Regions from separate parts of the Homo sapiens genome. Here regions 1, 2, 4 and 5 are each reported to be linked to region 3. The links are microRNA targets in miRTarBase. Many come from high-throughput screens and were not tested one by one. Region 3 holds a microRNA gene; each other region holds the end of a gene's coding sequence.

Region 1 (5,106 bases), not on the chromosome of region 3:
GGTTTCACCATGTTAGCCAGGATGGTCTTGACCACCCACCTCGGCCTCCCAAAGTGCTGGGATTACAGGTGTGAGCCACTGCGTCCGGCTATAATATGTTCTTAAGTACAGTCCTAGTCCCTTTCAGTTTGAAAGTTTTGTTTTTAATCTTGCTTTAAATAAGTGGTTGGGTCTTAGATATTTTAAAACTTTAATTTGAATATAATTTTTTTTTCTTTTTTAAAGGTTTTTGATGACTGCCACGAAGGTGGTGAGATTTCACCATCTAACTGTATTTACATGACAGAGTGGCTCGAATTTTAATAGAGAGCTATGAACTTTATTGACATTTTGCAAATGAAGTTACTTAGGGAGCAGATAATTTAATTCATGATGGAACACGAAATCTCCTTGAAAGCAAACTTCACAATAATGGACGTAGACTTGCTGCTATGAAAACATATTTTTTTTATTTATGAAGACTAAATTTATATTGGTAAAATAGCCAGTAGAATATGAAAGAAATAAGGTTAGTAGTGAAATTCATTCTTCAATAAATAAAACACTTTGAAACTCCGGAGGACCACATCTTTCAAGACTTCTGATGGGTCAAGGAAAAAGATGCCAACATACCCGTATTTACCAAGTACTATGATAATGGCTAGAGTATAAAAATGTTCTTTTTAAAGTTATTTATTAAGTTCTTCATTGGAAGTTTTTTTTTATATCTGGTTCACTACCACCATTTTCTGTTTCCTACTTTCTCAGTGGTTTCATTGAAAAGAAATTAGAAGGGGTTAAAGGCAGGAATAGCAAAGAGTGCAAACTTGGGGTATGACTGGGGGAGAGTGGAACATGCCTTTTCCGCACAATATTAATTCCTTTTTGTATCAGAAATGTTCTTTTAGGAGATTATGCTACCATACTTACTTCAAACCCAATGACTACTGTCAAGGACATATTTTCAGTACATAAATACTATCATTTTCATTCTAAAGAATATTTTCACTGTTCCTTCTTTCTTAAAGTCTTATGTTTCACTCTTTAACTCAAATGTATTCTTTGTTAGAATTTACCCTAGATTCTTATTTAATGTCTGCAGTAGACTGAATGTTTGTGTGCCCCCAGAATTCTAATGTTGAAATCTCATTTCCAATGTGATGGTATTTGGAGGTGGGGCTTTTGGTAAGTGATAGGTCAGGAGAGTAACAGCGCTCATGAATGGGATTAGTGCCCTTATATAAAGAGACCCAGAGAGCTCCATCACCCCTTCTGCCATGTGAAAGGGAGAAGACAAACATCCACGAACCAGGAAGTGGGTCCTCACCAGAAAACAAATCTGTAAGCACCTTGATCTTGGACTTCTCAGCCTCCAGAATTGTGAGAAATAAATTTCTGTTGTTGATAAACCACCAGTCTATGGTATTCTGTTATAGCATTAACTGAAACTAAATATACTCCGTGCCCTCCATTCACACTTTATTTTGAGAGAGGGGATAACATTCTTTTTCTCTTACTCTGTTTTAGATTTATTTCCCTTCCTTATTCTGTTCTAAATCATGGTGTGATGTGTCTAAGCAGAAAGCCATTATAATTGTCCTCAGTTCTAATAACACTTTCAGTTCCTATGGTCAGCCACATAGAAAACACTAGGTTATTTGATGTATTGTTGCACAGAAGTTGACTGTGCGGCTTTTTAGAATTGCAGCTTCATATTTTCACTTTGTAGCTCCACTTAGAAGTTTCTGTATCCAAGCCAAAAACATGGGACCCATGGAAAGGAATTCAAGCTCCACTAGTACTGAGGGTTGGGTTCTAATACCAGTTTGGAGATGCTCTAAGTGGATATCAGAAGAGTTATTTTAAGATAAATGGTATCAGTAAAATAAAATTCAGGCCACATTCTGTGAATTAGCATTTGATGACACTAGCTCTTTGTAACAAAAATTATTTCAAGTATTGAATATACATACATATATAAGATACACAGCCTTTTGGCCAGAACCCCCATCTTCCAGTAATTTGCCAAAATGATGAACACAAACGGAAAGAGGAGAGGCACCCGATATATGTTCTCTAGGACTTTTAGAAAACATGGAGTTGTTCCTTTGGTCACGTATATGCGAATCTATAAGAAAGGTGATATTGTAGACATCAAGGGAATGGGTACTGTTCAAAAAGGAATGCCCCACAAGTGTTACCATGGCAAAACTGGAAGAGTCTACAGTGTTACCCAGCATGCTGTTGGCATTGTTGTAAATAAACAAGGGCAATATTCTTGCCAAGAGCATTAATGTGCATACTGAGCACATGAAGCACTCTAAGAGCCGAGATAGCTTCCTGAAATGCATGAGGAAAATGATCAGAAAAAAAAAAGAAGCCAAAGAGAAAGGTACCTGGGTTTGCCAGGGATGGTGGCTCACGCCTGTAATCCCAGCACTTTGGGAGGCTCAGGCGGGCAGATCACGAGGTGAAGAGATCGAGACCATCCTGGCCAATATGGTAAAACCCTGTCTCTACTAAAAATACAAAAATTATCTGGGCATGGTAGCGCACACCTGTAGTCCCAACTATTCAGGAGGCTGAAGCAGGAGAATCGCTTGAACCTGGGAGGCGGAGGTTGCAGTGAGCTGAGATCGCGCCACTGCACTCCAGCCTGGTGACAGCGAGATTCCGTCTCCAAAAAAAAAAAAGAGAGAAAGTTACCTGGGTTCAACTGAAGTGCCAGCCTGCTCCACCCAGAGAAGCACACTTTGTGAGAACCAATGGGAAGGAGCCTGAGCTGCTGGAACTTATTCCGTATGAATTCATGGCATAATAAGTGTTAATAAAAGATCTCTGGACTGTAAAAAATTATATATATAAATATATATAAATATAAATATATATATAAATATATATAAAAATATATATGTAAATATAAATATATATATATGTAAATATAAATATATATATATATATATATATATATATATATATATATATATATATATATATATATATATGAAGGATCTGGGAACCTGAAACTACAGACAGAGGGTTTCTCTTCCACCCTCAGTGAGAGTTGGAATGGTAAGAACAATGTCTGTCCTTCCTGGGACTTGGCCTATCAAAAAGGCACTAGTTTTATGTAGTAAGAAAAATGAACTTGGAAGAGAGCTAGAAATGAGAAGAAACCAGCTTGTATGTTTTAAATATAGACTTTGTCTTATGTCTTTATAGCTAAAGATTGGTTTTTAGAGCTTAACATTCAATGGCTAAAACAAAAGTATTCCTTACCTCACCAATAAAGAGAAACTTCAAGCTTTTTTCCCATGGTATGTTTTTAATTCTGAAAATTAACTGAAGGAGACAAGAGACAATTTAAAATTACAGCACCTCTGATGAATAGTTAAATGGATCATTTATCCTACAGGGATAAACTGTAACCAAAACAGATTGTGGGGCTCTAGACTCCGGACAGCACCAAAAATTCAAGTTGCATATGAAGTCCTAATACTTACAGTTGATTTCCATTCAGTATTCGGTATTTTGCTCACCTGAGAATAGATACTCCCCAGAGTGTATAGAGGCCCCTGTATATTCAATGATGACCACAAAGAATCAAACAGAAATCAGAAATGACAGTCCATGGCTCTATGGTTTTTAATGAATAGTTTGTGTAGATTTTCCCATGAAACACCCCTGATCTTAGTTGGGTGATTTATAGACCTATGATGTTGGTGGTGATCAGCTAAGCAAACTAGCCAAACAGAAGTAATTTCAAATTAAGTCACTTTTACTTTGTGCTATTACTCATTATTGGATGGTGGGTGAGGGGAAAATACAAAATATATGTCCTAGACCAATGTTGTCCAATAGAGCTTTCTATAATGACGGAAATAGCCTATATTGGCTGGTCAGTAAGGTAACCAATAGCCACCAGTGGCTGTTGAGCACTTGAAATATGGCTAGTTTGACTGAACTGAATTTTCAATTTTACAGCTAGCTGTGGTTACTGGTTACTATATTTGGCAGCAAAGTTCAACAATCCTATAGGTCTATCTTAATTACTTTTATAGGAATGAAGAGTATCAGAATTATTTCTCAATTATATATATTTAGTTTTCATTTCTACAGAGAAAGAGGTCAACAAAGTTTTGTGAACTAAATTGTATAAGTTTCTTTTTTAGGAAAGGACTTCACAGAGAACAAGGCAAAGAATAAGTAATACAACAGCAAATTTCCAAAAAATTCAAGTAGAATCAAACTTTGACTATAGATTTGGTCAAATTAGTGCTAAACAGCCTCTTTAACAACATTATTATTCAACTGATTTATATAATTTGCTTTTTAGTAGTCAAATACATTGTTTTAAATCTTAATTATTTTTGATTATAAAATACATGCTTAGTGTAACAAATTCAAATAATCAGGAGGATAAAGTAAAATAAGGGGCCGGGCATGGTGGCTCATGCCTGTAATCCCAACACTTTGGGCGGCTGAGGTGGGTGGATCACTTGAGGCCAGGAGTTCGAGACCAGCCTGGCCAACATGGTGAAACCCTGTCTCTACTAAAAATACAAAAATTAGCCAGGCGTGGTGGCACATGCCTTTAGTTCACACTACTTGGGAGGCTGAGATGAGAATCACTTGAACCCGGGAGGTGCAGGTTAGAGTGAGCTGAGATTTGTGCCACTGACCTCCAGCCTGGGAGACAGAGCAAGACACTGTCTCAAAAATAATAATAAGGACGTCCACCACACTTTACCTACCAAAATGCCCATTCCCCAAAGATGATTGCTGTTGAACGATTAGGGTACCTTTCCTGATTTTTTTTGTCTAAGCACATTTAAAAACCAAGACTTTTGGTTTTGAGCGATAGCTCTGAATCTCCTTTAGGTATGAAGTGTAGGAAATTGTATTTCTGCAGCAAACTTAGGCTTTGCAACATCAAGTGTGGATTCACTGGAAATTATTTGAAGGAACACATAGCGATCATAATAGCCAAAAAATGTTGGGAAATGAAAAAGGGTGGGTTTTTTTAATTAAAAAAAAATTTTTTTTTTTAAGAGACAGGTTCTTCGCTCCATCACCCAGGATGGAGTACAGTGGCGCGATCATAGCTCACTGAAGGCTCAAACTCCT
Region 2 (5,106 bases), not on the chromosome of region 3:
TTCAAATATCATTACATTGGGGGTTAGGAATTCAACCTAGACTTTGGAAGGACACATACATTTTGTCTATAGCAGGGGGTGGATGGACACGAAGGAGGGTAGCTGGGCTTCTGCAATCTAGGTGATATGTCACCCAAGAAAGCGGTAAGAGGCTGCATGGTGTCTGCCAATGGTGGAATTGGAGAAGGTATGGGAGAAGCAGGGGACACAACTCTCATATCAAGAAACAGAGGAGGCTGGGCACGGTGACTCACATCTGTTATCCCAGCACTTTGGGAGACTGAGGCAAGCAAAGCAGTTGGGGTCAGGAGTTGGAGACCAGCCTGGTGAACATAGCGAAACCCCATCTCTAGTAGTAAAAATACAAAAATTAGCTGGGTGTGGTGGCGCGCACACGTGTAGTCCCAGCTACTCGGAAGGCTGAGGCATAAGAATCGCTTGAACCCGGGAGGCAGAGTTTGCAGGGAGCCAAGATCGCACCATTGCACTCCAGCCTGGGCAGCAGAACAAGACTCTTGTCTCAAAAACGAAAACCAAACAAGCAAACAAACAAAAAAACATGATTGACTCAGTGATCAGAAAACATATAACTATTTTATATTCATACTTCCTGCAGTTAATGTCCCAGTTGACTGGTTAAAAAGAATATTTGGGGGCCAGGCGCAGTGGCTCATGCCTGTAATCCCAGCACTTTGGGAGGCCGAGGCGGGCGGATAACAAGGTCAGGAGATCAAGACCATCCTGGCTAACACAGTGAGACCCCGTCTCTACTAAAAATACAAAAAATTAGCTGGGCGCGGTGGCAGGCACCTGTAATCCCAGCTACTCGGGAGGCTGAGGCAGGAGAATGGCATGAACCCGGGAGGCGGAGCTTGCAGTGAGCCAAGATTGCACCACTGCACTCCAGCCTGGGCGACAGCGAGACTGTCTCAAAAAAAAAAAAAAAAAAAGAAAAAGAATATTTGGCAATACGGAAAGTTCCCCTTGGGTTTTCTGACTCCAAGCCTGGTGTTTTTGTTTGTTTGTTTGTTTGTTTTCATTTGCACAACATTGCCTTTCCCCAAGAGTACTGGATAACAATGCCCTCCCTCCAAGTCCCAAGTCACTATTGCAGAAGTCAGGACCTTAACACACACATTTCAAAGTTACTGACACCTAGTCAAACCTGGTGCCTTAGCAATGCAATCTTGTAATTTCCCAGGTCAAACAGATCTTCAAGGGTTGCTCTCATGGCAGAATTTGGTGGTAGAAGGAAGGAAGCAGAGTCTCAGTCTTTGTGCAGCTTGTAGGGAGTTCCCTTTTTCTCAAGCCCTTGCAGCATCCTTCCCACTCTAAGCTTAAAGGAGACTGTGTAACCAGCAGTGCTCACCCATCCTGGGCCTGAGTTTGAATCCCAGCTCTGGAGTTCAGCTGTGTGACATGCAAGACCTTGTCCCTCTCTGAAGTCCTTCTGTAAAATGAGGTGGCTGCATTGGGTGATCCCATTCCACACCATGAGTCTATAGTCCTATCATCCTGGGTATACCGACGTCTGGTGGCCAACTTTGGTCCTTGCAGCTAATTCAGGTTTTTTCTTTGTTTTTGAGACATAGTCTCGCTGTGTCACCCAGGCTAGAGTGCAGTGACGCGATCTCAGCTCACTGCAGCCTCTGCCTCCCAGGTTCAAGCGATTCTCATGCCTCAGGATCCTGAATAGCTGAGGAATACAGGCACCTGCCACCACACCTGGCTAATTTTTGTATTTTTAGTAGAGACAGGCTCTCGCTCTGTTGCTCAGACTGGTCTCGAACTCCTGAGCTCAAGTGATCCGCCTGCCTCGGCCTCACAAAGTGCTGGATTACAGGCGTGAGCCACCGTGTCCAGCTCAGTTTTTAATTTTTTATTTTTCAGTATCTGGAGTGTTTAGCACAGCCAGGAAACAAAACACACCAGAGAGGGCCACCTTGCCATGTCACCAACGATGCAATAACTACCGAAGAAAGGCCCCTTGGGTGGCTATGGAGGAGCAGAGGTCAGCAGAGGAGATGGCCAGCAAAGTGCTCTCCTTTGCTCTATTTCTTTTCTTTTGAGACGGAGTCCCACTCTATTGCCCAGGCTGGAATGCAGTGGCATGATCTCGGCTTCTGCAACCTCCATCTCCCAGGTTCAAGCAATTCTCCTGCCTCAGCCTCCCGAGGAGCTGGGATTACAGGTGCCCGCCACCACACCTGGCTAATTTTTGTATTTTTTTAGGTGAGACGGGGTTTCACCATGTTGGCCAGGCTGGTCTTGAACTCCTGACATCAGGTGATCCGCCCACCTCAGCCTCCCAAAGTGTTGGGATTACAGGCGTGAGCCACTGTGTGATTCTTAGCATGTTGTAAGTTTGTCATTGTTCCATTTCCAAAGCATTCCAACCTCCATCCCCGCATGCGTTTGCACTTCTTTAGATTTGTGGGTCTGAGAGCGCATTAGCACCCCATCCACATGCAGTCTCCTGCCCTTCCAATCCTCACCCTGAAAACCTTCCTGTAGTCACAGACCTAGTCATTTTTCCCACGGCTACTCTTGAACTCTTTATGGACCTCTGCGCTCGCTTCCTCTTCTGTGAAAACAAATGAGTTTATGTAGATTAAGATCTAGCCAACTTCTGTAAAGGATCAGATGGTAAATATTTTAGGCTTTGCAGGCTAGTGACTCAACTCTGCATGAAAATAACTGCAATGTGTAAAGGAATGAGCATGGTTGGGCACCACACTGAAATTTGAATTTCATCTCCTTCCCAGGGGCCCCAGAAGAGTCTTCTTCTTCGGACTTTTTCCCCAAGCATTTAAATGTAAAAACATTTCTAGCTTGCAGGTGGTATGAAAATAGGCAGCAGGCTGGAGGTGACTGAGGAGCCTATCTAGTCTTTTTTTTTTTTTTAAACAGAGTCTCGCTCTGTTGCACAGGCTGGAGTGCAGTGGCGCCATCTCAGCTCACTGCAACCTCGGCCTCCTGGGTTCAAGCAAATCTGCCTCAGCCTCCCGAGTAGCTGGGACTACAGTTGCGCACCACCACGCCCAGCTAATTTTTGTATTTTTAGTAGAGACGGGGTTTTACCATGTTGGCCAGGCTGGTCTCAAACTCCTGGCCTCAAGCGATCCATCAGCCTCAGCCTCCCAAAGTGCTGGGATTACAGGCGTGAGCCACTGCGCCTGGCTGTATCTAGTCATCTTTAAAGACCCTCCCATCTCTGAGAACCCATGAAACTGCGCAGTCCTCTGGACTGGAGCTGGGGTGTGTCAAAGGCAAATCTTTGCCTGCCTTCTCAGAACACCATATTCAGAGAAGGCCATTCAGGACAGATTTGTCAGGCTGTTCCGAATGCCCAGGTCTGGGATGAGATGGCCTATCCATGGAGGATTTTTATTTTTTCGAGACAGGGTCTCACTCTGTTGCTCAGGCTGGAGTGCAGTGGTGTGATCTTGGCTCACCACAGCCTCTGCTTCCTGGGTTCAAGTGATCCTCCTGCGTCTGCCTCCCAAGTAGCTGTGTTACAAGAAAGGGGTCCTGATCTAGACCCCCCAAGAGAGGGTTCTTGGATCTCACACAAGAAATAATTCAAGACGAGGCGGTAAGGTGAAAGCAAGTTTATTAAGAAAGTAAAGGAACAAAAGAATGGCTACTCCATAGACAAGAGCAGCGCCTAGAGCTGCTGGTTGCCCACTTTTATGGTTATTTCTTGCTTATTTGCTAAACAAGGGGTGGATTATTCATTCCTCCCCCTTTTGGGACATATCGGGTAACTTCCTGATGTTGCCATGGCATTTGTAAACTGTCATGGTGCTGTCAGGAGTGTAGCAGTGAGGACGACCAGAGGTCACTCTCGTGGCCAACTTGGTTTTGGTGGGATTTGGTTGGCTTCTTTACTGCAATCTGTTTTATCAGCAAAGTCTTTATGACCTGTATCTTGTACGGACCTCCTGTCTCATCCTGTGACTTAGAATGCCTCCACTGTCTGAGAATGCAGCCCAGTAGGTCTCAGCCTCATTTTATTCAGCTCCTATTCCAGATGGAGTTGCTCTGGTTTAAATGTCTGACAGCTGGGACTACAGGCACACACCACCAAGCCCAGCTATGTTTTGTATTTTTTGTAGAGATGGGGTTTCACCATGTTGCCCAGGCTGGTCTCGAACTCCTGGGCTCAAGCAATCCACCCACCTTAGCCTCCCAAAGTGCTGGGATTACAGACACCCAACCCATTTGGAGGATTTTTTTTTTGAGATGGAGTCTCGCTTTGTTGCCCAGGCTGGCGTGCAATGGTGTGATCTTGGCTCACTGCAACCTCCGTCTCCCAGGTTCAAGTGATTCTCCTGCCTCAGCTTCCCAAGTAGGTAGGATTACAGGCGCCTGCCACCATGCCCAGCTAATTTTTGTATTTTTAGTAGAGACGGGGTTTCACCAAGTTGGCCAGGCTGGTCTCGAACTCCCGACCTCAGGCGATCTGCCCACCTCAACCTCCCAAAGTGCTGGGATTACAGGCGTGAGCCACTGTGCCCTGGCCAGATGTTTTTTTAAAAGAGAGAGAAAGAGAGAGAGAGAGAGAAAGAGAGAGAGAGAGGGAGAGAAGGAAACTTTGCACTCTGTTATCTTCAACCTCTTACTCTACCTTCCTCCCTAGCCGAAGTCCCAGTCCTAAAGCCTAAGAGACCCTCATTGGAACTTGACTTCTGCATAATCCGCCTGGGTGCCCTTGGGCATCCGGGCCTCAGGCCTGGGTCTGACGCCTGGGAAGTTGAGCGTGGCATAATGGAGCTCCTCTTGGCTCTCCTGGGATTCTGGGGCTTGAGTGGATGATTTGGGTTCTGGGAAACTGGGCAACTGATACTGCTTTTTCTGGTTCTTCTTTGATTCTGGGGAGGGAGCACCTGGTGGAAGAGGGGTCCGAGGACTGTTTGGTGTGGCTTTCTGATTCCGCTTCTGAGCCTGAGGGAAGAACCACCATCCTTCATTCATTCATTCAGCAAATATTTGAGCACTTACCACGCGTCGGGCACTGATTTACAGCACAGAGTGAAACTAAGTCCCTGCCCTTGCCTTGCTGAGCTTGCATTCCATCTTGGAAGGAGGAACAGACAATAATTA
Region 3 (5,106 bases):
ATGAAATAGTTTAAAAATCTTCCCAAGATTATGCAGCTACTTAAATGGCTGAGTAGGACTAGATCTGCAGACCCCTGAGGCCAGCCTCAGATATCAGTCAGAGTGAACATAACAAATCAAAGTAGTGTCCTTCCACAGAGGAGTTAAAATATTTAAACATAAGTAATTTTAGCAATCCAATAGGTGTTAAAAAAAAGAAAAAAGTCTATGGGCCAGGCACGATGGCTCATGCATGTAATCCTAGCACTTTGGGAGGCCGAGGCAGGTGGATCACCTGAGGTCAGGAGTTCAAGACCAGCCTGGCCAACGTGGTAAAACCCCGTCTCAAAAAAATAAATAAATAAATAAAAATTAGCCAGGTGTGGTGGCATCCTCCTGTAGTCCCAGCTATTCGGAAGGCTGAGGCAGGAGAATTGCTTGAACCTAGGAGGCAGAGGTTGCATGCAGTGAGCTGAGATCACACCACTGCACTCCAGCCTAGGTGACAGAAAATAAAAATCTATGCCCAGATAAATCTTTAGACTAATTGAGCAAGGCCTTTGCTTATACATCTTTGGTGTACCATAGGTTTGGATTTGTAGCTGTAGACTTTAACTTTTGCTTGTCTATAGCCACTGCATTACAAAGATGCAAATACCAGACTTTTCCAAACATGTTAATATGGGATCTCTGGGAGCGGGAACCCCCTAAATGGCTAATGTATACCAGGCCAATTAAAATTTAACGGCCTAGGATATGTGTGGGTATGCATGTGTATTTATTTAAAAAGACACTCAAATAGTTTTTTTTTATATGAAGAAAGTAAAGCTTTGACACTGAAATTAAATGATGTAATAACTGTTATATTCAGCTAATATCTCAATGATGGCTTTGAGGCAGTTGATAGTAGATAGCTTTTTTAAAGAAGTGTTTTTGAATGTTTAGCATATGAAACCCTTATGGTGTTGTCTTTATAGAGCAAAGAGGGAATAAAGAAATGGAATGTAAAAAATCCTAAATATTCCACATAAAAAAGCTTACTAGAATTAATAAATGTATTCAGCAAAGTTGCAGGACACAAAATCAATATGCAAATATCAGTTGTGATTTCATATACTAACATAAATCTGAAACGGAAATTTTTAAAAATTGGGTTAAAATAGCATCAAAAATACATAGAAATATAAACTTAACAGGAGACTAAAGACTTGTTCTCTGAAAACTACAAACATTTCTAAAGAAAATAAAGATGGTAATAAATAGACATATATATTCATGAATTAGATGACTTAATATTGTTGTCCATACTACTTAAAGCTATCCACAGGTTAAATACCATCCATATCAAAATACCCATAGCTGTTTTTTTTTTCTGAAATAGAAAAAGCAATTCTAAAATTCATATGCAACCGCAGAGAACCAAAAAGAGCCCAAACAATCTAAAGAACAAGCTGGAGGTCCTGCACTTCCTGACTTCAAAGGATATTACAAAATTACAGTAGTTAAAACATTATGGAGAAATAGTTATAGAAATATGGTGGAGTAGGAAGCACCAGGAATCTGTCTTCCCACCTAGAGAACAATTGTACTGGCAGAATCTGTCTGATATATAACTATTTTGGATTTTTGACATCTACTAAAGGCTTGCAACTTCTAGGGGAAAGCTTGCATGGCGAATTATGATTAATTTCAGTCAATTTCAGCACTTAACCACAGTAGTAGCTACCCATTTCCCACAGTCACCCCTGTAGCAGGCAGCTGTGCACATGTTACTGGAGCAGTCTGCACAGAGCATGCAGGAACCAGAGTGGGCAAAAAAAGGACCTGTCATCCAAATATCGGCAATCTTTGCTCTGATTGCTGATTGCTGTTTCTGGTCACAAAGATGGACGCAAAGAGGTGAGTGGTTATTGTTGCACCTCTATCCATTATTGCAAGCCCCTCCCTGCTGGCTGAAGTGACTTCCAGAAGATTAAAAGGGCCAGTGCCCTTCTCCTACTTTATTTTTCTGTTTTTCCCCCTTTGACAGCTAGACATTAAAAAGTAGGGCATTCAAAGTAACTGCACATATGGTGACAATCAGAAAATGACTAAGTTACTAAGTGTAAACTTAAGGACTGTCTTTTCTAAGCCTGTGCCTTGCCTTTCCTTTGGCACAGGCTTAGAAAAGACAGTCTTTAAGTTTACACTTCAGACTGATTCTTGGCACAGAGATAGCCTACAACAGAATCCTCTTATGACAATATAAAAAGCAAAATCATTGACTGAAGTAACCGCAAACTCTCAGTAAGAGGGAGAATCTAATTTTTAGAGTTACTATGTTATTAGATCCAAAATCACAATTCATACAAAAAATTAAGAAACTATGTCTTGTCCAAAGGAAAATATGAAATCCCTAAAATGACTTGATGGTGGATCTGCTACAGAGGGACTTTAAAATAATTGTGTTAAATGATCAAAGAACTACAGGAAGATATAGAGAAAGTCAAGAAAATGATATATGAACAAAATGAAAAAAATTCAATGGATAGGAAACCTCACAAGAAGTTAAAAAAAATTGGGAGCTGAAAAGTACAACAACTTAAATAAAAAATTTACTAGAGCGATTCAAAGGAAGATTTGAGCAAGCAAAGGAAACAGTCAGTAAACTTGAAGATAGGACAATGGAAATCAAGGAACAGAAGGAAAAAGAATTGAAAAAAGTAAACAGAGTCTAAGGGACCTGTGTGACACAATCAAGGAGTCACAGGAGGAGAGGAGAAAGAGAAGAGAAAACTTGAAGAAACAACGGATAGAACCTTTCCAAATCTGATAAAAGACATTAATATAAACATTCAAGAAATCCAACAGAATTCAAGGAAGATGAACTCAAAAAGACATAAACTGAAATACATTATAATCAAAGCTTTAAAAGGTGGAGACAAAGATAGAATCTTAAAAGCAGCAGAAAAACATCAATATATTACTTATAAGGAATAATCAGTAAGATTATCAGTATATTTCTCACCAGAAACGTTGCAGGCCAGAAGGCAGTGGGCTGACATTCGAAGTGCTAAAGAAAAACAAAAACAGAAAACATTATCAAACAAGAATCTTATATCCAGCCAAACTGTCCTTAAAGTGAGGGCGAAATTAAGACATCCCCAGGAAAACAACAGTTGGGAGAGCTTGTTACCATTGGACCTGACTTGCAAGAAATCCTCCTGCAGAGTGAAATGAGAAGACACTAGACAGTAACTTGAAGTTGTGTAAAGAAATAAAGATCTTAATAAAGGAAAATACATAGAAAATTATAAAAGCTTATATTATTGTAACAATACTTTTTAACTGCACTTTTCGTGTTCTACATGCTTTAAGAGGTTAATATATATATATTTAAATTTGTATAAAAGTTCATATTATGCTTTGTAACTCCAATTTTGTTTTGTACATAATTTAAGAGACTAATGAATTTAAAATACTTACATGTTTATATTTTTGTATAATACATAAAGATATAATTTTGTGACATCAAAAATTGAGAGGGTGGGGGAATGGAGCTTTTGAAGGAGCCGAGTTTTTATATATTATTGCAGTTATGGTGGTACAAATTTAAATTAGAATGTTATATATGCAGGATCTAAAATATAATCCCTATGGTAACCACCAAGAAAATAGCTATATACAAGGAAATGAGAAAGAAATTTAAGCAAATCACTAAAGAAAATAAAATAGACAACTAAATATAAAAGATAGTAATGCAGGAAATGTAGGGAAACATCTATAAGCTATAACGAATTCAAATAGTGGCTGGGCGCAGTGGCTCACACCTGCAATCCCTGCGCTTTGGGAGGCCGAGGTGGGTGGATCATGAAGTCAGGAGATCGAAACCATCCTGGCCAACATGGTGAAACCCTGTCTCTACTAAAAATACAAAAAATAGCTAGGTGTGGTGGCACATGCCTATAGTCCCAGATACTCATGAGGCTGAGGGAGGAGAATCACTTGAACCCAGGAGGCGGAGGCTGCAGTGATCCAAGATTGTGCCATGGCACTCCATCCTGGGTGACAAAGCAAGACTCTGTCTCAAAAAAAGAAAAAAAAAAGAATTCAAAAATAGTAAAATGACAGAAGTAGCTTCCTTCTTTTCAGAAATTACTTATAAATTGATTAAATGAGCTAATCAAAAGACTGGCAAAATAGATTTTTTTAAAAAAGATCTATGTGTGTACAAGAGACTCATTTTAGATCCAAAGATGCAAATAGATTGAAGGTAGAGGGACAGAAAAAGATTTCTCAGGCAAATAACCAAACAAGAGCAGGGTAGCTATACTGAGAACAGACAAAATAGACTTTAATCAAAAAGTTTACAAAAGGCAAAGAAGGACATTCTATATTAATAAAAGGTTTAATACAGTAAGAAGTTATAACAAGTATAAACATTTATGAACCTAGTAACAGATCACTAAATTATATGAAGAAATAACTTACATAATGGAAGGGAATGATACACAGTTCCACAGTAATAGTTGAAGATGAATAAATCACTCTCAATAATGGCTAGAAAAAAAAAACAAAGATAAATAAGAAAATGCAATACATTAAAAAAAAAACAATTAGACCTAACTCTGTGCAACAACAGCGTACACATTCTTCTCAAGTGTACATGGTACATTTTCCAAAATAGACTATATGTTACTTCATAAATTAAGTCTCATTAGATTGAAAAGATAGTTATAGAAAGTATCTTCTCTGATCCTAAGAAGATTGTCTTAGTTCATTTTTTGCTGTTATAACAAAATGCCACACACTGGATAATTTATATAAAAATGTTTTTTCCTCACAGTTTTGGAGGATGAGGAATCCAGAAGCATGGTGCCAACATTTGGCAAGGGACATCCTATGGCAGAAGGCATTAGATGGCAAGAAACAGAGAAAGAGACAGACATCAGGGGCTGAACTTGTTTATAACTACCCCGCTACTTCAATAATGACAGTAGTAGTTTTAGTCCTTATGGCAGGATTTATGGGAGGACTCTGCCTGTATGACCCACTCACCCCTTATTTGGCTCCATCTCCTAACACTGTTGCATTGGAGATTAAGTTTTCAACATATGAATTTTAGGGGGACATATTCAAACCATAGCA
Region 4 (5,106 bases), not on the chromosome of region 3:
CCCAAGCTCAAACAGCCTCTTGGTGTTAGATGCCTAGGTTATTGGTTTCTGTTACCATACTAATGCTGTGAGCAACATCTTTGTACCAATCTGGTATTTCTATCTTCTGGGCCAGAAGGCAGAGCAGTACATTTCAGGAAAGCTCTGCAGGGCCGGTCAGGACAGGGCCTTGTAGGCCAGGAAAGGATTTGGCTCTTGGTACTAAGTGCAGTGAGCAGCCACTGAAGAAGGTGGACGAGTCTCATTTCAGGTGTTTATTTGTAAATGATCTCTGACTCTACGATGAAGAAAAAAATGGGCTGGCTTGGTGACATGAAGGGTGGACATTAAAGAGCAAAGTGGATGGCCAAAGGTTCAGGAGGCCACCAGGAGCCGGTGCCCTCGGTCTAAGGCATAATCAACTGGCAGGATAGATGGCATCACCAGGCGCTTATCTGAGAACACTGCAGAAGGGCCAGATGCGTCTGGGGTTTTTTTTCTGATGGGGGTTTGGGGGAGATCACTCATTCGTCTTGGCTATGCTGAGCTTGAGGCACCTCTGAGACACCGTGGAGATGTCAGAGAGGTAGGGACATCAGAGTCTGGACTAGAGCTGCAGAGCCAGGAGTTACTGATGTGAGGATGGCAGCAGAAGGCAGAGGCCTGGCTCACATCACCTAGGAGGGCCTGGGTGGTGAGGCCTGGGCCCAGAAAACTAGCACTGCTCCATTATGACCGGCAGAGGCCACAGTAACTGCAAAGTATCCACAGAACCCCATGTGTATCAGCAACCCCGATGGATAGAGAAGAGCTGTACATGTGAACTGGAAGCCAGTGTCGGTGGCCCAGCTGCTTAGGTCCAGATGCTTGGTTTGTCTCAGGAGCCAGGAGTCAGCGGCACGGACCACAGTGCCGCACAGCTTGAGCACCCTCACGTGGGGGATCCCCGCCCGCCAGCCTCCTACTGTAAGCATTTCCATATGGAAATGGAAGAGGGAGTGTTGTGGGGAAATGAAGAAAGGGAGCTGCAGTGTCTAGAGCAGTTAATTGGGAGAAAATGAGAAGAAAAGCGCTAGGGCAGCGTCAAGGCAGTACCCTGACATAAATCCAGGCTTTTCCATCATGATCCTGATGGCTGTAATATGGAAAGTGGCCCCTTTCTAGTCATTTTGCTGGAGATCAACTAGAATACCTGAACTAGAAGTTATGTGCACGGAGGATTCCAGCAACTCCATTTTAATAGAAAAAACTGGAAACTAAACAAGTGACAATGAACAAACGAACGATAGTGAATTTATACAATCAGTTTCTTACAGCAGTAAAAAACTCCAGCTACCTGCAGAAAAAACCACGCATGTATCCTTTGAGGTAGATACTGTGTTTTGAGTGATACTAAGGCATAAACATCCCTCTAAAAGGAAGACATTACAATGTAAAATCAGTTTCCTAAAATCCAACTCCACAGAGCTTCATGGCTGAATTTAGTCGAGGTCATCAAGAACTGCTAAGGCCAGTGTTTTTAAAGGCTTTACAATATCTTTTAAATGATTGCTCTATATTTTATGAACACCAAAAACTACCTAAAAACCCAGATGAAAAAGTCGTATCCATAAATATGGATGTATAGACTGTACATATTGCACAAACATCTCTTCAGCCCCATGAGTGACAACTGGCTGTTTGCCAGTGACGTCTGCTCATCCATGTGTCCGATTCGAGCGTCTGACTCTTGTCACTGTTCATGGTCAGCTGTGACTTCCCAGGCCTAGTACCTTCCCTAGAGAGAACGTGTGCTAAGCGAGGAGCAGAAAGCGAGGTTTTTTTTTTTGAGACGGAGTCTTGCTCTGTCATCCAGGCTGGAATGCAGTGGCATGATCTCAGCTCACTGCAACCCCCACCTCCCGGTTCAAGTTATTCCCCTGCCTCAGCCTCCCAAGTAGCTGGGACTACAGGCAAGCGCCACCATGCCCAGCTAACCTTTTGTATTTTAGTAGAGACGGGATTTCACTATGTTGGCCAGGATGGTCTCGATCTCCTGACCTCGTGATCTGCCTGCCTCGGCCTCCCAAAGTGTTGGGATTACAGGCGTGAGCCACTGCGCCCAGCCAAGTCATCACTTCTATACCAGTGCAAGAAGCATTTCCTAGCAGTGGTTTCAGCACCATCTGTACCAAAGGAATGGACCTTTGTAGAAGAAACTGCCAAAGAATAATCTAGAAACCACTCATTTCGAGTCAGTAGAAAAAGGTGCTTAGCAACAATAAAACCCATATATGTATCTGTAACTACAACACAATAAAAATACAAAATGCAAATACCCTGGGCCCAGAGGTGTATGGGCCACAGTAGAAATAGTAAGACAGTGGAAACTTTAAGTTTAGAAAACAAATTATTTTGGACCAGTGTAGAGCAGAAACATTTAATTAGGGCAGTGAACCAGTGTAACATAATTTTAATGCTAATGATTACCACCAGGCTTCAAAAACAAAAAATTAGGCTGGGTGTGGTGGCTCACACCTGTAATCCCAGCACTTTGGGAGACAGAGGAGGAAGGTGGATCACTTGAGATCAGGAGTTCGAGATCAGCCTGGCCAACATGGAGAAACCCTGTCTCCACTAAAAATACAAAACTGGCCAGGCGTGGTGGCTCACGCCTGTAATCCCAACTACTCGGGAGGCAGAGGCAGGAGAACCACTTGAACCCGGGAGGCGGAGATTGCGGTGAGACGAGATCACACTATTGCACGCCAGCCTGGGCAACAAGAGTGAGACTCTGTATCAAAAAAAAAAAAAAAAAAAAAATTCAGGCCAGGAACAGTGGCTCATGCCTGTAATCCTAGCACTTTCAGAGGCTGAGATAGGCGGATCACTTGAGCCCAGGAGTTCGAGACCAGCTTGGGCAACATGGCAAGAGCCCTATCTCTACTAAATTAGCCAGGCCTGGTGGCACACACCTGTAGTTCCAGCTACTGGGGCGGCTGAAGTGGGAGGATCACTTGAACTTGGGAGGTGGAGGTTGCAGTGAGCTGAGATTGCACTGCTACACCCCAGCCTGGGTGACAGAACAAAGCCGTGTTTCAAAAAAAAAAAGGTTTAAACTCAGTTCACTGTGGTTCCAATTGAAAGAAGGGAGAAACCACTTTCCTAAGAAAAATGAATATAACCTATAAAACGTGATCAGTCATAGAAAATAGCCAAGCCTGTATGTGGGAGATGTGGATTAAATCAGTAAAAAGCCTGTCACCAACAATGCACTTAACGGCAGTCAATCAGAAAATCCGTAACAAAGCCAGGAAGCCATGCTGTCGAAGCAGGATTTTATTTCACCATTACTGGACATCTGAAATGGGGAACGCAACAGAGAGCATGCGTGATGAACGTGCTGCTCAGGGGATCAGAGTCAAAGAGTTGCAAGAAAATGAACAACAGATGAAGGACGTGGTTTGCAGCTTGATCTGTTTCTACAGGACAGTGGAAGTGAAAGGTAAGACAGCCCTTAAGACTCAGGATTTTTAATAAACTCTGATTTTTAATAACCATGGAACAATGCCCTGTAATTAGCTGTAATTTACGGAGATATGGAATCTTGAACATAATGTGATGAAAACTAAACCTCAGAGGAAGGGTATAGTAAAAATACAAGTCATAAAATAATATTATTGCTGCAAGGAACTTGTTCCTGTTTGTAGAAATGAATGTAGACCTGTATCACGCTGATATAATGGTGGGAGAGATTTCTGGCCGGTCTGTGGTTCTGAGACTCATCTAGTTTCTTCAGGCTCAGTGCTTCTCCCTCTGGGCACATATATCCCAGAAGGCTACATGTAGTAGCCAAGACATTCCCAATGTGTCCTACGTGTCACGCCCCTGCCTTTAAAAGGTTAGCCAACCAGGTGACCTTCTAAGGTACCTTTTTGGTTTTAGAGATGGGGTCTCACTCTTTTGCCCAGGTTGGACTCGAACTCCTGGGCTCAAGCAATCCTCTTGCCGCAGCCTCCCGGGTAGCTGGGACTAAAGGCACGTGCCACCACACCCAGTTTGAAGTTCGTTTTGGGGCTTAGTAACATACATGTTGGGATCAGTCACTCACAGACAATGCTCTATGGAAATTCTACCAAAATGCTTCCTGGAGGAGGAAAGACTCATCTCTTGCCACTTTTCTGGAATGCGTCCATGGACGTCAGAGTGTTCCGGGGTTCTAATTTGTTCACAGTTCTTTTCTTCCAGAATATAAAAGATGTAATACTTTTGGGACCACTAAATTAATAAACTCTGAAATCAACTGCACCAAGACCTCTAGGTTTGTTTTTAATAGACTAAATTTAAATGGCAATTTTAAAAACTGAAAAGCTTTCCTCATATTTCTAGAGTCAACACTGGAGGTTGACAATTAAAGGTGAGACAACAGGAAACCACACGCCCCATCACAGGTACAACCTGTGGCTCTTAGTATTGACCTTCAGTTGATGTGACTGTTAATATATTACAAGACTATGCAGCAGCGCTGTAAACACGTGCCCATCAAAGACCCTTGCTTGGGTAAGAAAGGCATGAAAGGGACTCTCACGACACCTTAATGTCTGGCCAAACACTGGGATGTTTCAATGATGAACCTGAGCAGGCACTGCTGAGCCATCTGACAGTGCCCCGGGCACTTACTGTTAACAGAGCCCTGTAAAACTGCCTGGCGGCTGGGATCAGAAGCCTCAGCATCCCTTGTTCTCTGTACTTATGGTACCCATGAAGTCAGTTCCAAGCAATTTTTGGATGTCCGTAAGGCTGAGAAAAGAAAGAAAACATAAGAGTGATCAGATCAGCAGTATCTGCAGCATGAGGAATTAACCTTGTTTTAACTACAAGCTAAAAGAACAATATAAATGGCTGTTTCATTTCCAGCTGAAAAAATCTGACCCTAAGCCATAAATGAGGCACTTGATATCTTTTTGGTTTTGAGTACTAGCCCTAAGAAACACTTTCACATATGATCTGTGAAACCCTGACCCTGACACTCTCACTGATCCACGGCCAAGTGGGTTTAGGAAATGCTGTTCCCTGTGACTGTGACAGTCAGTGTTTGAGGGCGAGTGGCCTATGGCAAACGCAGCACCTGCTCTAATTATGTTTCAC
Region 5 (5,092 bases), not on the chromosome of region 3:
TTTACAGACTTCCGGACTCTCCGTCCAATCTGGATGAGCAGGTATCCCGGAGAGTGTAAGTTGCTGACATACACAACTTGAAAGCCAGAGCTTTAAGGGACTGCCTGTTGCATTTTTTATCATAAAGGAGTCTAGACTTAAATCTTTCATAACCGAACTCATACTGTAATCCATTACATGTACTTCATATTAGCTAGCGCTTCTGGCATTATGGTGGCAGCTGTGTAAAATATTTGTTGTGCTTGTTTAGAATTGAATTGTAATGTTCTAAAGCGAGCAATTATTCCTACCATGGAAGCTGCCAAACCTCTAATACTTCTATACTTTGCCAGTGTGTCTAAATTGCAGGAGATATTGGTACCCTAAGCAGAACAGACACAACCTTCTCAGACACAGGAGGATGACCCTGTTTCTAAATAGCTGCACAGTCTAGTTCTCTCTCCTGTTTACTCGTTGTTAGTTTAGTTGTCTAAGACTATGCGCTTGCTGAGGACAGTCATTTTTGAATTCTCCAGCCCCTATCGCAGTGTCTGGCATGTGATGAGAGAACAGGAATATTTGTTGAAAAGTGAAAATGCATATTCCATCCCATCCTGCCCCCTTTCCTCCCTCTCCCTCCTTCTTCCTACCCTCACACTAACCTTTGGGTTTTGCTTTCTAGGCAAAGCAGGAAAAATGCCAGCTCGGTCTCCCAGGACTCTTGGGAGCAGAACTACTCCCCTGGGGAAGGCTTCCAGAGTGCCAAAGAGAACCCCAGGTACTCCAGCTACCAAGGCTCCAGGAACGGCTACCTGGGAGGACATGGCTTCAACGCCAGGGTCATGCTGGAAACTCAGGAGCTCCTTCGCCAGGAACAGAGGCGGAAGGAGCAGCAGATGAAGAAGCAGCCTCCTTCCGAGGGGCCCAGCAACTATGACTCGTATAAGAAAGTCCAGGACCCCAGTTACGCCCCTCCCAAGGGGCCCTTCCGGCAAGATGTGCCCCCCTCCCCTTCTCAGGTTGCGAGGCTGAACAGACTTCAGACTCCTGAGAAAGGGAGGCCCTTCTATTCCTGAGCACGCAAATAACGGATGCTTCATGTCGCGCAATAAAAGACATTTTCCTATGAAGACTTGTATTTTGGGAGTTTTTTTAAAACCTCGATGGTACTATGGAGTATTTCTGTTGTTGGTATCAGTGCCTTTAAGCGGTGTAGGCAAAGAAATGGAAGGCCTTAATGTCTTTGCCACTATGTCTCAAGTGTCTGTTTCATGGAAGGATTTCCCACCCTGTGACAATCATCTGTTTGAGGTGTTCATATGCTCTGCGCCTCTCCACAGTACCAGGAATCTCGGCCCTACTCATGAGTTGTCCGCGGCTTGGTTGTAACATCCCTGCACCACTTGCAGTGACAAATTCACCTGAAGTGGAGGATGACGTGCGGCCCTGTTTCTCCCTCTAAGTTCTCTTAGCTATGGGATGACATCTTAGTCTCTGGTGGAGGAAAAGTGGGCGACATACACCAAAAATTGGGGCTTTCTGGTACTTCACAGCACAGCCATTTGTCGTACTTTGTCATCACTGTGGTTTTCTCTTTCCTTTCTCAGCTCTTTGTGACGGGAGAGTCGGTCATCCTATTACAGAAGCTAAGCCATAGTCCAACATTGTTTGGTCACCATGGGGGTCCTTTTGTAACTGCCTTATGACTCAACATTACCAATAAAGTGATGATCCTGGTCTGCGTTTATACATACGCTTGTTCGGTCCTGTTCCTGACACGTGGGTTGAGTCACCACAGCTCTGTGTGGGGAACGTGGGAGACAGGAGTGGCTCCTGCCGGGGGAAGCTGGGCCTGCCATTGGCCCTGTGTCTATCATGAGGGGAGAGCTAAGAAAGAAATTCTCCTAGGAAGAGCTCATGGCCCAGTACATCCTAGTAATTATTTTAATTAGTTTTTGTTCTGACAGCTTGTCAGGAAGGGCACAGAATGGGACAGAGATAAACCAGACAGTCATTTTGATCTGCTCTCTACGGTTTTTCAAGTCAGAGGCAATTGATGCTTGTCTAATGCATCCACACACTGCATGTCTGACTGGCGATGCCGCGCTCCTAAGTAGTTCTGCCATGAAACATAAAAGACAAAGGAAAAGCCGTTACACATCACACAGAGAACATTTTCGGGTCCCACAGCGGTGGTGGCAGGAAGCTCACTCTCGCGTCAGTATTAGAGTGTGTGTGTGGGTCTCGGGGATCTCGGTGGCTCCCATCTTCCTTCATTGTTCTGAACATCCTGTATTGTAAACCATGGCTGGGGTGCTAAAGTGCCTGTGAATCCCGATGTGGAAAAAGCTGGAGGTGAAAGCTCAGCATACCATGTATTTACTTTAAAAACAGAAAAAAAGACATGTATGGATATGTCTATTTTTTTTTTATTGGCACATTGTATTTTTGTGTTGACTTGTTTTTAGAAATGATGTGTCCACACACGTACCCGTGTCTCTTCTGCATTTCTGTGTCATGGTTCTGTTTCTTAATCACGTGCGGCGGTGTCTAAGTGGTGTTACCAGTGTACGCGCAGTGACCTTGGATGACAGTGGCTCTTTCTCACAGCCTCCCCTGAGCTGTGAGAAACAGCTTTCTCTGTACATATGCAACTCCTAATAAAAGGCATATTTCTTCCTGTTCTTTTGGTGTCTCTGGTGTTCCTGGGCAGCCTTGCCTAGCTGGGCTTTTTTAAAAGGTCTATTAACAGATGTGATTTTTTTTTTTTTTTTATATTTAGAGAAAGTTGGAAGTTTCCTCACATCTGAGGAAAGTTTGCAGGAAAGGGGGCAGGAGAACCCTGGGGCCCACTCTTGGATGAGGATGGAGAGGGGGGACTCACCTGTCCCTTGGAAAAGATGGTCCCCATTATGACATCATTCTCACTCTTAGTCCATTAAGACAATATACAGTCTTACAGTTGGAAGTCTCAAAGTGGGAAGTTTGCAAACACAGGAACTGGTGGTTGATTGCGTATTTGAGCACCTGAGGAGAGAGGGGAAGGGGAGAGACAAGAACCTTCATGAGTCCACTGCAAGGCCCAGGCTGCCTGAAGAAGCCTGAGGAGTTCTGAATTGAAGGAGCCAGTACAGCTCGAACTAAATGAATGAAAAATTATGCAGAAAGCGACATGATAGTCCCATGACTGCCCTTTGGACCCTTGGAATCATCCTAGCAAGCCAGATGTTTTGATTGAGTCCTGGCCTTGAGTCCTGTGAGCCCAGAGAAAGGTCCAGATTCGAGTCCACTTCCAGTACAAACCTGGTTCTTATTTCCCAAATTACAAAGTAAGGCTTTGCTATTTCTTTAAGAGGGACGCCCACAAATATGCATGCGGCATTTTGAAGGCATAAAGGGTGCTATGTCCCTAGGTATGTCTAGTGCACAAATATAGGAGATTTGGTCCCCACACAAATGGCAGACTTTGCGAGGACCTGTCAAAAATGCCCTCTTATGGAGCACCTAGCATCAGTGGGTTGTCATAGCAACGCTCATCCTGTCACTACATCCAAATTCTATCACCTCGAGATTAGGAATGAGGGGTGCATGGCAAGCCGAGGCAATACCACCTCCTTGGTTCTTTCAAGCATGCCAGGTGTGGGAAGTGAAAAGGGAAGATGGACAGGTTTGTTCATTTTCTCCCTGAGCAGGAGGCCCATTGCTAATGCCAAAACACATGGCTTATTTGTCTCAACTGACAGCGGACAGCAGAGTAGGAGAGGCAATAATCACATGTTGTGGGGACCCAAGTCACAAAGGGACCTGTGGGTTGAAACTGACAGTTTGAGCGGCACTGGGAAGAGAAGTAGGAATGGTCCACAGAGAAGTCAAAATAGGCTCCATGAAGCAACCTTGACTCAGCGGACCAGCCTCCTGGCTTCAGGACCTTTTGCTAAGACACAAGGGTATCCCCTGGGAGGGCGTGTCCCAAGGCGGAGCCGGCCCGGGTGCTGTCAAGATGGGCACTGGAATCTGCCCAGCAAAAATTGCATGAAAGGGGAGCCAGGGAGACCCTGGAGCCCACTCTCAGATGAGGATGGAGGTAGGGGAACTCACCTGTCCTTTGGGAAAGATGGTCTCCACTATGGCATCATTTCTAAGTCCATTAAGACAGTATATAGTCATTTGTATTAGAAATTATAAAAATAATACTGCATAGCATATCTATATTATATGTAATTGAAGCACTGCCATCCACCTTCTCTTTCTGTGGTCAGACCGACGGCAGCTCAAAGGTCAAAGTATTAGGGTTCAATCACTTGGCGGTTCATGGTCCAATGACCACAGCTAAGGAGGAGTTCACCAAGGGTTTCATTATTGGCAACGCGTGAGGAGGATGCCAGGGATAGTTCCCAAAAGCAGTACCTCCCTGAACGAGGTGAAAACAGCTTTTATCGGGCTGGTGAGCTGAGCTGAGTCATCATATGTCAAGCTTGTCCAATCTGCAGCCCAAGGGCCACATGTGGCCTGGGATGGCTTTGAATGTGGCCCAACAAAAATTCGTAAACCTTCTTAAAATGTTATGAGATTTTTGTTTGCGATTTAAAAAAATTTTTTTTTAGCTCATCAGCTATCGTTAGTGTATTTTATGTGTGGCCCAAGACAATTCTTCTTCCAACGTGGCCCAGGGAAGCCAAAAGATTGGCCACCCCTGTGAGGTGGAGTAAGGCTGGTGCAGGGACAGTCATTGATCATGCTTCTACATCCTTCGCATGGGTAGAAAATGGCAAATAAGTTCCTCCCTGGGCGGAGTGTTTAGTGCAGTAAGGAGAAGAGTTCACCAAAGTTCCCTCCAACTAGGCACCTCTGGATCCAACTAGTTTTTATTTTGCTGGGTCTGGGCTGCTTCCTGGAATTTTTGTGAAACAAGGAGAACTCAGGGTGCAACAGTTACCAGTGGGCACTTTTCCACAGGCTGCCAGAAAACCCGGGGACCCTGGGTTACAAAAGCACCCCACAATTGACAGGGCTGTCCCAGAACAGGCGGAGAGCAGGACCCCAACTTCTCTGGGTTTCTGCCAATGAAGTCCAGTAGATCCAATGAGAGAGGGTAAACCCAGTGAATTTTCTG

What was found. The annotated mature microRNA hsa-miR-4438 reads CACAGGCUUAGAAAAGACAGU and lies in region 3 at 2,134-2,154, shown strand. An mRNA with a match to its seed (bases 2 to 7 or 8) in the 3' UTR can be bound and repressed. Matches are read on the target gene's strand: a 7mer-m8 pairs with bases 2 to 8, a 7mer-A1 pairs with bases 2 to 7 and ends in A, and an 8mer does both.
Region 1: the mRNA of POLR3F is a reported target of hsa-miR-4438. The part of its 3' UTR that is shown has no 7-base or 8-base seed match.
Region 2: miRTarBase lists SIGLEC10 as a target of hsa-miR-4438. Seed matches in the 3' UTR shown: 7mer-A1 at 4,498-4,504, 7mer-A1 at 4,363-4,369 and 7mer-A1 at 4,072-4,078.
Region 4: miRTarBase lists TCHP as a target of hsa-miR-4438. The part of its 3' UTR that is shown has no 7-base or 8-base seed match.
Region 5: the mRNA of PARD3 is a reported target of hsa-miR-4438. The part of its 3' UTR that is shown has no 7-base or 8-base seed match.

Annotation. Positions count from the first base shown.
Region 1 is chr20:18,483,256-18,488,361 of GRCh38, forward strand. POLR3F (RNA polymerase III subunit F) reads left to right here. Exons shown (of 9, transcript NM_006466.4): 9 at 226-1,391. The coding sequence ends at 303. RBBP9 (RB binding protein 9, serine hydrolase) reads right to left here. Exons shown (of 5, transcript NM_006606.3): 5 at 3,285-5,106. It also overlaps the pseudogene RPL21P3. Among named protein-coding and RNA genes, the nearest start is that of RBBP9, 11 kb to the right of the region's middle.
Region 2 is chr19:51,406,425-51,411,530 of GRCh38, forward strand. SIGLEC10 (sialic acid binding Ig like lectin 10) reads right to left here. Exons shown (of 11, transcript NM_033130.5): 11 at 3,596-4,947. The coding sequence ends at 4,675. Among named protein-coding and RNA genes, the nearest start is that of SIGLEC10-AS1, 6.7 kb to the right of the region's middle. RefSeq lists enhancers at 1,459-1,508, 2,526-3,026.
Region 3 is chr2:213,755,989-213,761,094 of GRCh38, forward strand. MIR4438 (microRNA 4438) reads left to right here and starts at 2,079; the gene lies at 2,079-2,171. All of the region lies in intron 10 of SPAG16 (sperm associated antigen 16), which reads left to right.
Region 4 is chr12:109,916,243-109,921,348 of GRCh38, reverse strand. TCHP (trichoplein keratin filament binding) reads right to left here. Exons shown (of 13, transcript NM_001143852.2): 13 at 3,280-4,758. The coding sequence ends at 4,726. Among named protein-coding and RNA genes, the nearest start is that of TCHP, 19 kb to the right of the region's middle. RefSeq lists an enhancer at 397-897 and a silencer at 4,994-5,106.
Region 5 is chr10:34,107,132-34,112,223 of GRCh38, reverse strand. PARD3 (par-3 family cell polarity regulator) reads left to right here. Exons shown (of 25, transcript NM_001184785.2): 25 at 662-2,663. The coding sequence ends at 1,055. Among named protein-coding and RNA genes, the nearest start is that of LINC02629, 210 kb to the right of the region's middle.